Regions from separate parts of the Homo sapiens genome. Here region 2 is linked to region 1. A link means that fine-mapping ties the variant in region 1 to the expression of a gene that starts in the linked region. Tissue or cell type: whole blood. Region 1 holds a variant in brackets; the other region holds the start of a gene. All regions are shown on one strand. Distances are from middle to middle.

The links. PIP is the estimated chance that this variant, and not a neighbour inherited with it, causes the effect.
Region 2: ZNF862 starts here. The variant in region 1 is fine-mapped to the expression of ZNF862 in whole blood (TOPMed, PIP above 0.99).

Annotation. Positions count from the first base shown.
Region 1 is chr7:149,861,958-149,864,738 of GRCh38, forward strand. It overlaps ZNF862 (zinc finger protein 862), which reads left to right. Exons shown (of 8, transcript NM_001099220.3): 7 at 1-537; 8 at 2,152-2,781. The coding sequence ends at 2,327. Among named protein-coding and RNA genes, the nearest start is that of ATP6V0E2-AS1, 11 kb to the right of the region's middle. The variant T/G (reference allele first, on the strand shown) is at 1,547.
Region 2 is chr7:149,836,705-149,839,362 of GRCh38, forward strand. ZNF862 (zinc finger protein 862) reads left to right here and starts at 1,671. Exons shown (of 8, transcript NM_001099220.3): 1 at 1,671-1,931. The coding sequence starts at 1,908. RefSeq lists a silencer at 1,747-2,206.

The DNA of each region.
Region 1 (2,781 bases):
AGCAGAGGTTTGACGCAGACCGACCCCCACAGCTGAAGAACATGGAGGTGTTTGACACCATGGCCTGGCCAAGTGGGATTGAACTTGCCAGTTTTGGGAATGATGACATTCTCAACCTGGCCAGGTATTTCGAGTGCTCCCTCCCAACAGGATACAGTGAGGAAGCTCTGCTGGAGGAGTGGCTGGGCCTGAAAACCATTGCCCAGCACCTCCCGTTCTCCATGCTCTGCAAAAACGCCCTGGCCCAGCACTGCCGCTTCCCCCTGCTAAGCAAGCTCATGGCCGTGGTGGTCTGTGTGCCCATCTCCACCTCTTGCTGTGAGCGGGGGTTCAAGGCCATGAACCGAATCAGGACCGATGAGAGGACCAAGCTCTCCAACGAGGTGCTCAACATGCTCATGATGACAGCTGTGAACGGCGTGGCCGTCACGGAGTACGACCCCCAGCCCGCCATCCAGCACTGGTACCTGACCTCCTCAGGCCGGCGTTTCAGCCATGTCTACACCTGTGCCCAGGTGCCAGCCCGCTCCCCTGCAAGTAAGTACACGTGGCAGAGCTCCCCCAAGGCAGCCTCATGCTGAGCCAGAGGCCAATAAGACAGGACTGCAGGTGCCTGTGGAGCTTCTGTCATGCACCCACCCATTTGCTAGGCCAGTGGGTACTCGATGCGTGACATCCACCCTCCAGGAGCTTGCACCCCTGCCAGGGAGATGACGCACATGTGCTCTAGGCAGCAGGGCTTAGTGCAGAGAGCGTGCATTTCTAGAGCCTGTCTGCCCTGGTGACAGTGCTGTGCTGGCTCTGCCCCCAACTGGCTGTGTGGCCTTGGGCAAGTCTGTCCTTTGATGCCTTGGTTTCTCATCTGCCGAATGAGTTGTGTGTGGAAAACACTCAGGACAATGCCTGGCAGGTGGTGCAAATGGTACTAGTTAAAGGTCAAGACCACTGCTGGGAGTAAGGAGAGGGCTGACCAGCCCCAGGCAGCGCCATCACATTCTAAGTGGGGCTGTATAGACTCTGGACCGTGCAGGAATTTTCAAGAGGGAAGAGGTCCATGTGGCTGTGGAGGAGGTGAGATGCGGAGGAGATGGTGGGGCTTTCAGGCAGAAATCTCACGGGGCAGGGGAGAACAGAAACAGCCTCTCTGGACCGGAGGGCTGGGGTCAAGAACTTGCTTGAGGGGGAAGCTGTATTAGAAGGGAGGGCAAGTTACTGAAAGCCACAGACAGGAAATTTTTCTCTTCAAGTAGTCACTGAAAACCAAAGAAAATATGCCCATTGTTGGGGTTCTCCAGACCACTCGCGACCACTTGACAAGGATGGAGCAGTGCTCTCTCTCCTCGCGTCTCTAGCTGGCCTCCTTCCGGCTGTTGCTGCTCCCAGTGCTCTCTCTCCTCGCGTCTCTAGCTGGCCTCCTTCCGGCTGTTGCTGCTCCCAGTTTTCACCTCTGAGTCTGTGGTCACCAGAAATGGGACTGGATCTCATGGCTGACAGAGGCTCTGTAGGAAGCAAGGTGGCCCTGAAGCCACAGTAGGGCAGGTGGGGA[T/G]AAGAAAAGAGACCCCTCACTGATAAGAGAAAGGGAAAGCCGAGAGAGGGCTGGGTGAGTTGCTCTGTGTCCAGCCCTGTGGGTGCTAAGGAGAAAAAAATGATGTCAGGTGTGCCCTGATGCGAGTTACTCTTTCCACAGGGACAACAGGACCAGCACAGATTGGTCCAAACACTGCCAAACTACGCACCGCTGCCTCCTTCCAGGCAGGGCTCTCAGCCTTGGCATTGTTGATGCTGGGGCTGGGTAATCTCTGTTGGGGGCCCTTCCTGTTCACTGTGGGAACTTGAGCAGCATCCATGGCCTCTACCTATTAGATAACCACTGGATACCAGTAGCACACACCCCATTTGTGACCACAAAAATCATCTCCAGACATTGGCAAATGGCCCCTGGGGGACAAAATCGCCCCCAGTTGAGATCCCCTATCTCAGGATAAAAGAATGAACAGAGTAGCAACAGATGAGGGCTGCAAAGAGCAGTCGTGGTCCTGACTTCAGTCTGTTCTGCCAAGCTTTCCTCACCAAACAGCCCCTGGGCGAAGCTGGATGTGGAAGGCGGTCACTGTCAGTCAGTCTAATTGTATTCTCCTTCCTCCCTCACAGGCGCCAGGCTCAGGAAGGAGGAGATGGGAGCCCTCTATGTGGAGGAGCCCAGGACCCAGAAGCCACCCATCCTGCCCTCCAGGGAAGCAGCGGAGGTTCTGAAGGACTGCATCATGGAGCCTCCCGAGAGACTCCTGTATCCCCACACCAGCCAGGAGGCCCCCGGGATGTCCTGAGGGACAGGGAGTCCTTGGGACTGCCTTGGAGACGCCTCTGTGATCACTGGGACAGGCTCTGCAGATTCTAGGCTGCCCTAGGATCTTCTGCTGGTGGCGATGGTCTCTAAGCACCAGGAAGTGGGCAGTGGCATCCCAGAGCAGCAGGGGTATCAGGAGGTGCATGACCTGTTTCCTGAGGCCCCACTCAGCACAGCCATGCCTCACAGCACACAAATGTGCCAGAAGGTTCTATATCTCAAGTTCATTTTTAAGGTGCTGCAGAAAATAACCCCATCATGAAAGGTTTCAGCCCCTGAGTTTTGGTGGCAAGAGGAGTGTCCTGGTAGGGGAGACTGTTGGACATCCCTGGGGAATGTTCCAGGGAGGCTGCCCACAGTCTAAGTGGGAATGGGAAAGACCACCTTGTTAGAGGGGGAGGTTGCCCCTGCTCTAGGGACAGCTGGCCTGGCTG
Region 2 (2,658 bases), 25 kb before region 1:
CCATTTTTCTTGGAAAGATGGAAAACCTTTTATGGAAAAATGTGTCAAAAGAATGATTTACCCTAGCTGTCCTCCAGTTTTTTAACCCCTAAAAGAGAATCTGTTATAAAGACATGGATAACTCATGGGCAGAAATATAGCTCTTCAAGGTAGTGATATAGTCGAGGTGGTGAGTGGCAGGCCACTTGGAATCCACAGAGTCCTCACTCTCTGCCTTCTCCTCCACATTTCTTGTGTCTCATTCTTTTTTTCAGTAATGCAGACTCCCCTACACTCCTCGAACGGAATTTAGGTCTATTCAACCTTGGCCAGAAGAGCAGAGCTGGATAATGGAAAACGCTTACTTGAAGCCTGTGTAACATGGTGAAACCCTGTCTCTACTAAAAATACAAAAAAATTAGTTGACCATTGTCTTAATCTCTATGTGCTTCTGTAACAAAATCCCTGGAACTAGGTAATTTATAAATTATGGATACTTATTTCTTATGATTCTGGAGGCTGGGAAATCCAAGATCAAAGCACCAGCAGTGTCTGTGTCTGGTGAGAGCCTGGTCTCTGCTTCCAGGAGGGCACCTTTTTGCTCTGTCCTCACATGGCAGAAGGCAGAGGGGCAGAAGGGCAAAGGGCCTAGCTAGTTCCCCCAGCACGCATGTGGTCACTAACACCTTCATGAAGGCACATCCCTGCCCTGGCCCCCTAAAAGTCTTTTTTTTTTTTGAGACATGGTCTTGCTCTGTCACCCAGGCTGGAGTGCAGAAGCGCCATCCCGGCTTACTGCAGCCTCGACCACCCAGGCTCAAGTGATCCTTCCACCTCACAAAATTATTTTATTTTTATAGAGATGGGATCTCTCACTGTGTTGCACAGGCTGGTCTCAAACTACTGGGCTCAAGTGATCCTCCTGTCTCAGCCTCCCAAAGAGTTGGGATTAGAGGTGTGAGCCACCGCACTTGGACAAAACTTCTTATAAGGACACTAATCCCACCATAAGGGCCTGACCCTCACGACTTCATCTAAACCTCCCAAACGCCCCATCTCCTGGGAGGGGAACACCGGTCAGTCCATTGCACCTCCTTTACCTGGCAGACCCTACCTCTTGCTTTAATTCTGCTGAGGCATCACTTCCGCAGGAAATCCTTGACTAAGCACCTCATATCCCCCACCGCTTCACTCTAAGGTGACAACGCGGGCTTTAATTCATGTTTTGTGCTTACCTCTTTCATAGCCCTTGTCTCTGTTTTGTAATTATCTGTTTCTGGTCTGATTCCCTAATAGATCGTGAGTTCCTTGAAGGCAAGGCCTTTGTCTCATTCAACTGTGTTCTCCCAAACCCTAGAACACGGCCTGACCCATGGTAGGCAACCAATGATACTTTTTGAGTGAATAGAACAAAAAGTATTGCCCTCCTTAATAAAAGAAAACCTAGAACTTCAAGGCTGACATTGGCCTTCGCGTAGCCCAATCAGAGCGCTTTGCCCTTGCTGCAGAGGACTAAAGGACGCCACGCCGCCGTTGCCTAGTAACTGTCGCCGGAGGGAGGCGGGGAGGGTCGCAAGCGCGCCGCCGGCGTCCAATCAGGACCTGCGTTCCGGGAGCCAATAGCAGCTTCGAGAGCCGCTCACCTAGAGCGGACTACACTTCCCGTCACGCCCCGCCGCCTGGGGCTGGGCAGTGACCGTAAAGCTGTTCGCTCGGTGCGACGCAAGTCTCAGCTCAGCGCGCTTATCCTGGGTCCACCGGCGCTACCGCCCCCCGACGTGAGAGAGCGAAGTTCTTGGGCCGCGCTCCCTCCCTACCTGGGTGCCCTCCCCCTCCGGGAGCCTGGGTCCCCGGGGCGGTCGCGGCGGCTGCATCCTCAGGCCAGGCCGCGGGGGGAGGGGGCGGCACGGGCCTCCGAAAGCGGGGCCATGGAGCCCAGAGAGTCGGGGAAGGTAGGACTGGAAGGCCCGGGGGCCGCCCGCTCCCTCCCGAGGATCCCCGAGCCGGGCTCGGGCGAGGCGGGGCGGCTCGGGCGGAGGCCCCGCAGATGAGCCAGGCTTGCAGGGAAGGACTCGCCGGCCCGCCCTCTCTTCCCGCACTTCGGCGCCCGACCCCGGGAGGGTGGCGGAGAGGAGCGGACGCTTCCGTTCGGTGTCCGCGCATCCTCCCCGAGCTGCCGAGCGTCCGCTGGGTCGATGCTGGGTTGGGTGACCCCCGAGTGGAGCGATGCGAAGGTGCTTCCTGTTTTCCCCACCACCTTCGGCGTTTTGAAGAGGCCCTGCTAAGGCTTGGAGTCTGGATCGGACGCCAGTGGGAGCTGCAGGGTGGGACGCTTGAGGGCTTGACCCTGCCTAGATCCTCCTTACCAAGAAAGGGCTGAAAAGAGAGGGCATCTGGCATGCTTTTTGCCACTTCTGTTTCTAGGTTATGTACTTCATGGAATATCTGGGCATTGCTTAGAAACCTGTGTCATAAATTGGCTTTGGGCAAGAGGCTTTGAGTTGGAAGAAAAGGTGGAAAGAAAGTGCTTGGGGGCGGAGTTCAGGGATTTGACGGGATTGCCAGCGCTTCCAGGCCGTGTCATCCAAGACCAGTGTGGTTGTGGGCACATTAGCTTGGAGACAGTGGCAGCCTCTTGGGACTAACATCTTTCTGGATGTTGTTTGCTGCCAGTTCTTG